Linked DNA regions of Homo sapiens. The protein of the gene in region 2 purifies or fractionates together with the protein of the main gene of each other region. This does not show direct contact. Each region holds a gene or a part of one and is shown on either strand. Other genes may lie near its edges.

Region 1 (3,722 bases), on a different chromosome or scaffold from region 2:
CTACATAATGAACTATTTTTTTTTCTAGGTGGAGTAATGTATATAACGTAATTATATTCTAATTAATTGTTATGCTTATTTTTACAGGTAGAATTAGAAGATCATGTGATGTTGGAGTAGGAGGGTTTATCTTGGTGACTTTGGGATGCTGGTATGTTTGCTAAGTATTCAAGAACATCCATGATTATAGTAGGTTATCTAATTCAAAAAGCACATGCTCTTTTCAGAGCAGTCTCCCATTGGGAGATCCTCACCCTCAATGAAGAATCTTGATTTTTCAGGACATTTTCATGGAAATCTTAAAATGCTTGAACAGATAAATGCATATTAGACATCCCATTAAAAAGAAAGCTGTGGTTTTTACACTTCACTTAGGAAAGCCTCAACCATTTCCCTTACCCTAATACTTATTTCATCCCTGCTTATTCATATCTGAAAATGCTACTTTAAGAATGTGTTTACAACTACTGATGAGTGAATATAAAATATGGATGAACCTCAAATATTTGCCAGACCTAAGAGTATGATATGTATGTACTATATGGTTCCATTTATACATGAATTTCTACAGTGAGCTATTTAAGGTGGTAGAAATCATTTTATGTAGACATAGCATTATTATCCCGTTAAAAACGAGAGCAAATACTTGTTTCTTATAATAGCCAATGCTATCAGAAGACTTAAAAACTAATGGATTTTATCACTTTACAAATTGTTATGTAGACATCCTTTTTTTCCTAATAAAAAAAGAATGTGTTGATAGGTATTCTGACACCAAAACTGCCCAAAAATAGCACTATAAATTAGAACATATTTTTCAGTCTCAGGGTAGTAGTCATCTGTATTTAAGTTTTGTGTGATTTAGAGAAATTTCATAAATTAATTTCTGTAGGACTTTATATTAACAATTTATTCATATTCTTTTCTTCTAAGGTTTCATTGTAGGTATAATTATGCAAAGCAAAGAATCCAGGAAAGAATTGCCAGAGAAGAAATTAAAAAGAAGATATTATATGAAGGTACCCACCTCGATCCTGAAAGAAAACACAACGGCAGCAGCAGCAATTGAACAATCTTGAGCATAGAAGTCAATGTAAACGAAGTTAAGATCAACCACATAAAACATTTCATGTGCAATAAGCTCTCAATCAAGTAAATAAAGTTTAAGTTGTAGTCATTTTTTTCCCACACTTGTGTGGAATGAAAACTTGCCAGTTTATTCTGGCCCTGTGTCTACTGCCAGGATAGCATTCTTACGTGTTACATATAGTGGACTTGTCATCCTTAAAATGTGAACAGAATTTATTGGCAGTGTGGCAAAGAATTATAAAACATAGTGTTTAATGTACTTGGAGTTTCCTTGTAGTAGTAAGTATAGAGTTTGATGATAAGTAAACGTCCCTTAACAAAAACCTCAACCTTATTACTATCCCATTAAAAAACAGCAAATACTTACTGAGTTCTTGTAAGAGCTAATGTCATTGTAAGATTTAAAACTAAGGGCTTTTATCACTTTGCAAATTATTTTTTAAATGCATTCATCATTTGACAGTGTTCTCTCATTTCTTAAAATGCGAGTCATCTTCCAAAAGAGTTGTTTTTAACTGCCCTAAACATTTTTGGGGAAGTATGCAGGGTTTAAATTTTTAAGTATAATTAGTTCTGAATTAAAATATGCACATGGAACTTGTCTGGCAGACTGATGCAATAGTAAAACAACTGCAGAATTACTATTAATGTAAACAATCCATTTGAAAGTCAATCAGCTGCTCCCATTAAAATATTATTTAAAATACAATACCCACAGCATCTAACTAAATCCTCAGGATTTATTCTCCGGGAGAAATTATCCCTTTCTAGGAAAATGAAGTTATTTCTGGTTTTAATTCATACAATACTTTAAGAAAATCTGTTAAATATAACAAAACACAAGCTAGATGCTTAAGAAATGCTTAAAGAAATATTGGGGCGAAGGTAACAGCAGTCAACAGGATTGTGGCCATTACTGGTCCTATTATTTTGATGTACCATGGAAGGCACAGAAATCGAGCAAGGAAGAAAATATTAGTTATTTTGATCTACATCTTTTTCTAAAGAAAAGTGGAGCTTGCCTCCAGTTCAATTCACAAGAGCATTTTCCCTCCCATGCCCACCTTTTCTTGTGGCTGTCGCTAGGAAGGATGCAGAGGCTGTGTGGTTTACCAAATGCCTTAACTTAGCAGTGAATGACAACTGTCAAACACATGTTGAGGGAAAATTTTTACTGATTCACAAAAAGGAAGACAGTTTGCCCACTCTTAGTGGCACAAATCAAAGCTGCATGCACTACATTATCCAAATTAGTCGTAACCAAATAGTTAAAAAATTCTGCTGGGCACGGTGGCTCATACCTGTAATCCCAGCACTTTGGGAGGCCGAGGCAGTTGGATCACCTGAGGTTAGGAGTTTGAGACCAGCCTGGCCAACAGGGTGAAACCCTGTCTCGTCTAAAAATACAAAAATTAGCCGGGCGTGGTGGTGCATGCCTGTAGTCCCAGGTACTCAGGAGGCTGAGGCAGGAGAATCACTTGAACCCGAGGTGGGGCAGGCGGAGGTTGCAGTAAGCCAAGATCGCGCCATTGCACTCTAGCCTAGGTGACAGAGTGAGACTCCATCTCAAAAAAAAAAAAAAATTCCATAGGATGTTCAACCATGTTTTCAGAGGCCGCACTGCATGAATGCGGGAAAATGTTGATGATCACTAATCAATAATCTGATATTTAACAAAATATGGACAGGCCACTTATGCTCAGTTTTACCTTAGTTATTCCTTGGTATCCACAGGCCCAAGTCCCTTTAAATAAAATACCCTCATATTTCCATATAATCTACATACATTCTCCCATATACTTTAAATCATCTCTAGATTACTTATAATGTCTAATACAAAATAAATGCTATGTAAATGTAATTATTATACTGTGTATTTTTGTTGTTGTTCTTCATTGTTATTTTTTGTCTTTTTACCTCCAGTATTTTCAACCCACAGTTGGTTGAATCCAAGGATGCAGAACTGGAGGACATGGAGGGCTGACGTGTAACATACATAACATATAAAACAGGTCCCTTCCAGCGCTAGCACACTGCAATTACATCTTACCCTGAATAAGAGAGAAACTCTGTTTTGGCTGGTAAAATTTCCAATGTCTTCACCAATAACAAAGCTCATTTTCACAGAAGTTTGCATAAACTGGAAACCTGGATAAAAACAAAGTTGTAACATATTTGGTTGGATTATTTTTTAAATGTTTCATGTATTTACATGATCACTAATAATTTTTATTCTTATGCTATTAAGATTTTACAAGTGTATTAATAAATTACCAAAGTCTGTAACACCCACCCTCAATAAGGAGAGACTGGTAGAACGAAAGTCTCTCCTATCAATGTCTACCCTACCATCCAACTTCACGTCCAAACTATTTAGTTTTTTGCCAAACCTTCAATGCACTATGACCTTTTTTTTTTCTCTCTTGAGATGGAGTTTCACTCTCGTCGCCCAGGCTGGAGTACAATGGCGTGATCTCGGCTCACTGTAACCTCCACCTCCCAGGTTCAAGCGATTCTCCTGCCTCAGCCCCCCAAGTAGCTGGGATTGCAGGTGCGTGCCACCACGTCTGGCTAATTTTTGTATTTTTAGTAGAGAGGGTTTCACCATGTTGGCCAGGCTGGTCTCGAACTCC
Region 2 (4,044 bases):
AAAGCTCCATGCGCTCCCTGAAAAAGTTCAAAGGCATGAAGAATACGCAATGGTCACTCAGCCACAAACATGGAACAGCACCCTGGCCAGAAGACGACCAGCTCCAGAGGGCTGAGCAAATGCCTCAAGTGCACACACATGGGGCACACTTCAATGTCACATCACGAATGCAGGGCTTTCCAGAGTCTCAGTCCTGAGGCTGCTGAAATGTACCTATGCATCACAGGGTTATCACAAGTGAGGAGGAGGGAAATTCTAATCGTTTTACAGGTAGCACTGATAACACATGTGGGGGGTCCACGTGTGTGAATAATTCCACAGGCAGCCATGAGCCAAGGCTTGGGGGTCTCAGAGACTGCAGGTGCAGGCCGATAATCCCTTCTCCTGGGAGGAGGGAAGAGAAGTTGACGTTCCACTCAAGGTTGTAACTAGGCAACTAGGCCGGGCACGGTGGCTCATGCCTGTAATCCCAGCACTTTGACAGGCCAAGGCGGATGGATCACCTGAGGTCAGGAGTTCGAGACCAGCCTGGCCAACATAGTGGAACCCCCGTCTCTACTAAAAATACAAAAATTAGCCGGGCATGGTGGCAGATGCTTATAATCCCAGCTACTCAGGAGGCTGAGGCAGGAAAATCACTTGAACCAGGGAGGCAGAGGTTGCAGTGAGCTGAAATCATGCCACTGCACTCCAGCCTGGGCAACAAAGTAAAACTCCATCTCAAAAAAAAAAAAAAAAAGTTGTAACTAGTTATGTTCAAGGAACCCAACTCACCTTCTCCGTTTAAGCCCAATACCTGAGTTGGCCCAGTTATTCCTGAATCCAACCTCACACTCAAACTAATGAAACAGCATAGGTCCAAAGCATGGGGTTGCCAACAGCCAAATCCAACCAGCCATTTTTTAAAATAAAAAATATAGGCCGGGTGTGATGGCTCATGCCTGTAATCCCAGCACTTTGGGAGGCCGAAACAGGCAGATCACAAGGTCAGGAGTTCGAGACCAGCCTGATCAACATGGTGAAACCCTGTCTCTACGAAAAATACAAAAATTAGCTGGGCGTGGTGGCGCCTGCCTGTAATCCCAGCTACTCAGGAGGCTGAAACAGGAGAATCACTTGAACCTGGGAGGCGGAGGTTACAGTGAGCCGAGATCGCGCCATTGCACTCCAGCCTGGGCGACACAGAGAGACTCCATAACAAAAAAAAAAAAAAAAAAAAAAAATATATATATATATATATATAGAGAGAGAGAGAGAGAGAGAGAGAGAGAGAGAGAAAATGTAGTCAAATAGACATAACATAGTATTTATTATTTTAGCCATTCACAGGTGTACAATTCCCTGACATTACCCACATTCACAATGTGGTACAACCATCACCACTATCTACACCCAAAACTTTTCCATCATCCTCAACAAAAATTCTGCACCCATTAACCAATAACTCCTTCCCTCATCCCCATCCTCAGTAACCTCTTTTCTACATTCTAGGCAAATTCATATAAGCATAAGCATATAAAATTTGCCCTTCTGTGTCTGGCTTATTTCATTAAGCATGTTTTCAGGGTCTATTCACACTGTAACATATATCAAAACTTCCTTTTCATGGCTGAATAATATTCTGCTGCACGAATGTACTGCGTTTTGTTCATCTGTTCGTGGGTGCAGGCCATTTCCACCTTTTGGCTCTCGTGGATAATGCTGCACATCTGCACACATTGGGGGACAAACGCCTGGAGTCGTGGCTTTCAATTCTTTTCGATACATACCTAGGAGCAGAATTGCTTGGTCACAGTCTATGTGTCACATTTTGAGAAACTGCCAAATGGTTGCCCACAGCGTGCCACCACCTTGTTTGTATAAATAAACTTTTACTGGAAGAAAGTCTCACTCATTCATTTAAACACTGGCTGTGGCTGCTTTTGCACTTCAAAGGGGAGAGGAGTCCTTGCAACAGAGGCCCTGCGGCCTGCAAAGCCTAAAATGTTGCCTCTCTAGGCCTTCGTGGAGAAAGCTGACCAACCTCTGGTCTAAGGTCACTTCCCTGGTGCAGCCTGTGTTTTCACAGACTAGAATCCCAGTGCAATGGTCTGTATTGGCATCATGGGTCAAAAGTCTCAGAATGCGTTCAGAGTAAGAGGCTGAATCCCACGGACGCACGCTGGCCATGCAGGATCGAGATCAGCAGCCCCAAACACAGACATGGTAGAAAGCACCCAGGAAGCTGGCTGGAATGCTGGTTCCCAGGCCTCACTCCTTGAGAATGCATTCCAGGTTGGGGCTGGAAAATCTGTTTTTTTGTTTGTTTTTCTTTTTTGAAACAGAGTCTCGCTCTGTTGCCCAGGCTGGAGTGCAGTGGCATGATCCTAGCTCACTGCAACCTCTACCTCCCAGGTTCAAGTGAGTCTCATGCCTCAGCCTCCAGGGTAGCTGGGATTACAGGTGTGCCACACTCAGCTAATTTTTTGTATTTTTAGTAAAGATGGGATTTTGCTGTTTGCCAGGGTGGTCTTGAACTCCTAGGCTCAAGTGATTTGCCTGCCTCAGCTCCCAAAGTGCTAGGATTACAGGCATGAGTCACCGTGCCCAGCCAATCTGCTTTCTAATAATATAATAAGCTCCCTAAAGGAAATGTTCAGAACCACACTAGGAGAGATCCGACCTCCTATAGCAGGAAACCCAGCAGCTCCATGTCCACACACAGGCCACGCAAGGCAGCTGGCTGGGGTGGCCTCCAGACAATTCCCCCAGAATCCAGCGTCCAGCCCAAGTCCCTGCCTATAACCCAGTGTCCGCTGCCACAGCAGGGGGCTCTTCTGGAGCTCGGACACAGGCCTGCTCCTCCCAGTGACAAACCCGGGAGCAGGTGCTGGGAAATCACTCAGTGGCTCCCATTTCCTCGCCTGCTGGTGAATCCAAAACAGTGCCAACAGAACGCATCCATTTCTTAATGATCTGACCGCCCCTGCGAGAGTTCAGCCCCTCCTAGGCTTCCCTTACCATAGTGAAAACACTTTCCCTGCAGGAAAGGCCAGCAGGAACCCCTGGATCCTACTGTTTAGCTCTTGCTGTGGAAATTCCCATACATCGGACAGGTACCAAAGGCTCGGAGATCTCAGCCTGTCTGCCCCCCAACAATGCAAGCCCTGCAGCTAGGGCTCTGCGTCTCAGGACATAGCCCACTGGTTCTCAATTAGAGGCAACTTCACCCCCCAAGAAACACTGGGCAATGTCTGGAGAGATTCTGGCTGTCACAACTAAAGGATGCTACTGAACATCCTACAATGCATAAGACAGCCCCAAGGCTAAGAATTACTCAGCCCCAAATGCCAACGGTGCCAAGTTGAATAACCCCGATGTAAATCAAGTGAGTGCATTTTCAGCCAATAAACTACTACTGTCCAGAATCACCACTTCAGTATTCCCAGCACTCACCTGACCTATATTTTAAGCAGTTCTGTGTATTGGCAAGTGCTCGCTTGAATCCACCATATGTCAGAACTAAGGACAAGAGGTCCCTTTCCCGCCTTCATGGTGTTTACGTGTACCCTCTAAGGAAGAAGATGGCGAACTACCCCCAAAAGAGAAGTGTGGTTGAAAAATCTAAGCCTCTTGAAAGGAAGGTCCAGGGAGCTATGGAGAATCAAGAGAGATCCAAAGTCAGAAGTCAGCATAGGAAAGGGCCCCTGAGAGAATCGGGAAGGCTGAGACCTGCGCAGAGTCCAGGGGCACCCGGGAGGCCAGCAGAGCGGAGCAGTCGCTGTGGATCCCCTTGGGCTTGGCAAAGCAGAGAGGGGAAGCCAGCAGAGCACACACACTCTGTTGGAAGAATCTGCAGGATGGGTCCATTGACTGCATGTGGAGGGGAGAAGCTTGCAGGACCTCTCTGGAGCTGCACCAGGGGTCACTAGGCAGCTCTCTACGGTGGACGCGGGAGCACCCCAGGAGGAGCAGCTGGGGGGTGTGGGGGGTGGGCAGGTCGAGTGTGTCTGAATACACTCAAGGAGCAAAGAATCCCACTGGCCTTGGGAACAAGTGAAGCAA

What was found.
Region 1: the proteins of RIPK4 (region 2) and COX20 purify together in Homo sapiens (affinity purification with mass spectrometry, with the first as the bait; one large-scale study listed by BioGRID). This does not show direct contact.

Annotation. Positions count from the first base shown.
Region 1 is NC_000001.11:244,842,108-244,845,829, forward strand, and holds the end of COX20 (cytochrome c oxidase assembly protein COX20, mitochondrial), read left to right. Parts: intron 1-87; coding exon 88-151; intron 152-933; coding exon 934-1,069; 3' UTR 1,070-2,950; downstream 2,951-3,722. UniProt on the Homo sapiens protein: Essential for the assembly of the mitochondrial respiratory chain complex IV (CIV), also known as cytochrome c oxidase.
Region 2 is NC_000021.9:41,756,800-41,760,843, forward strand, and holds part of RIPK4 (receptor-interacting serine/threonine-protein kinase 4), read right to left. Parts: intron 18-4,044; coding exon 1-17.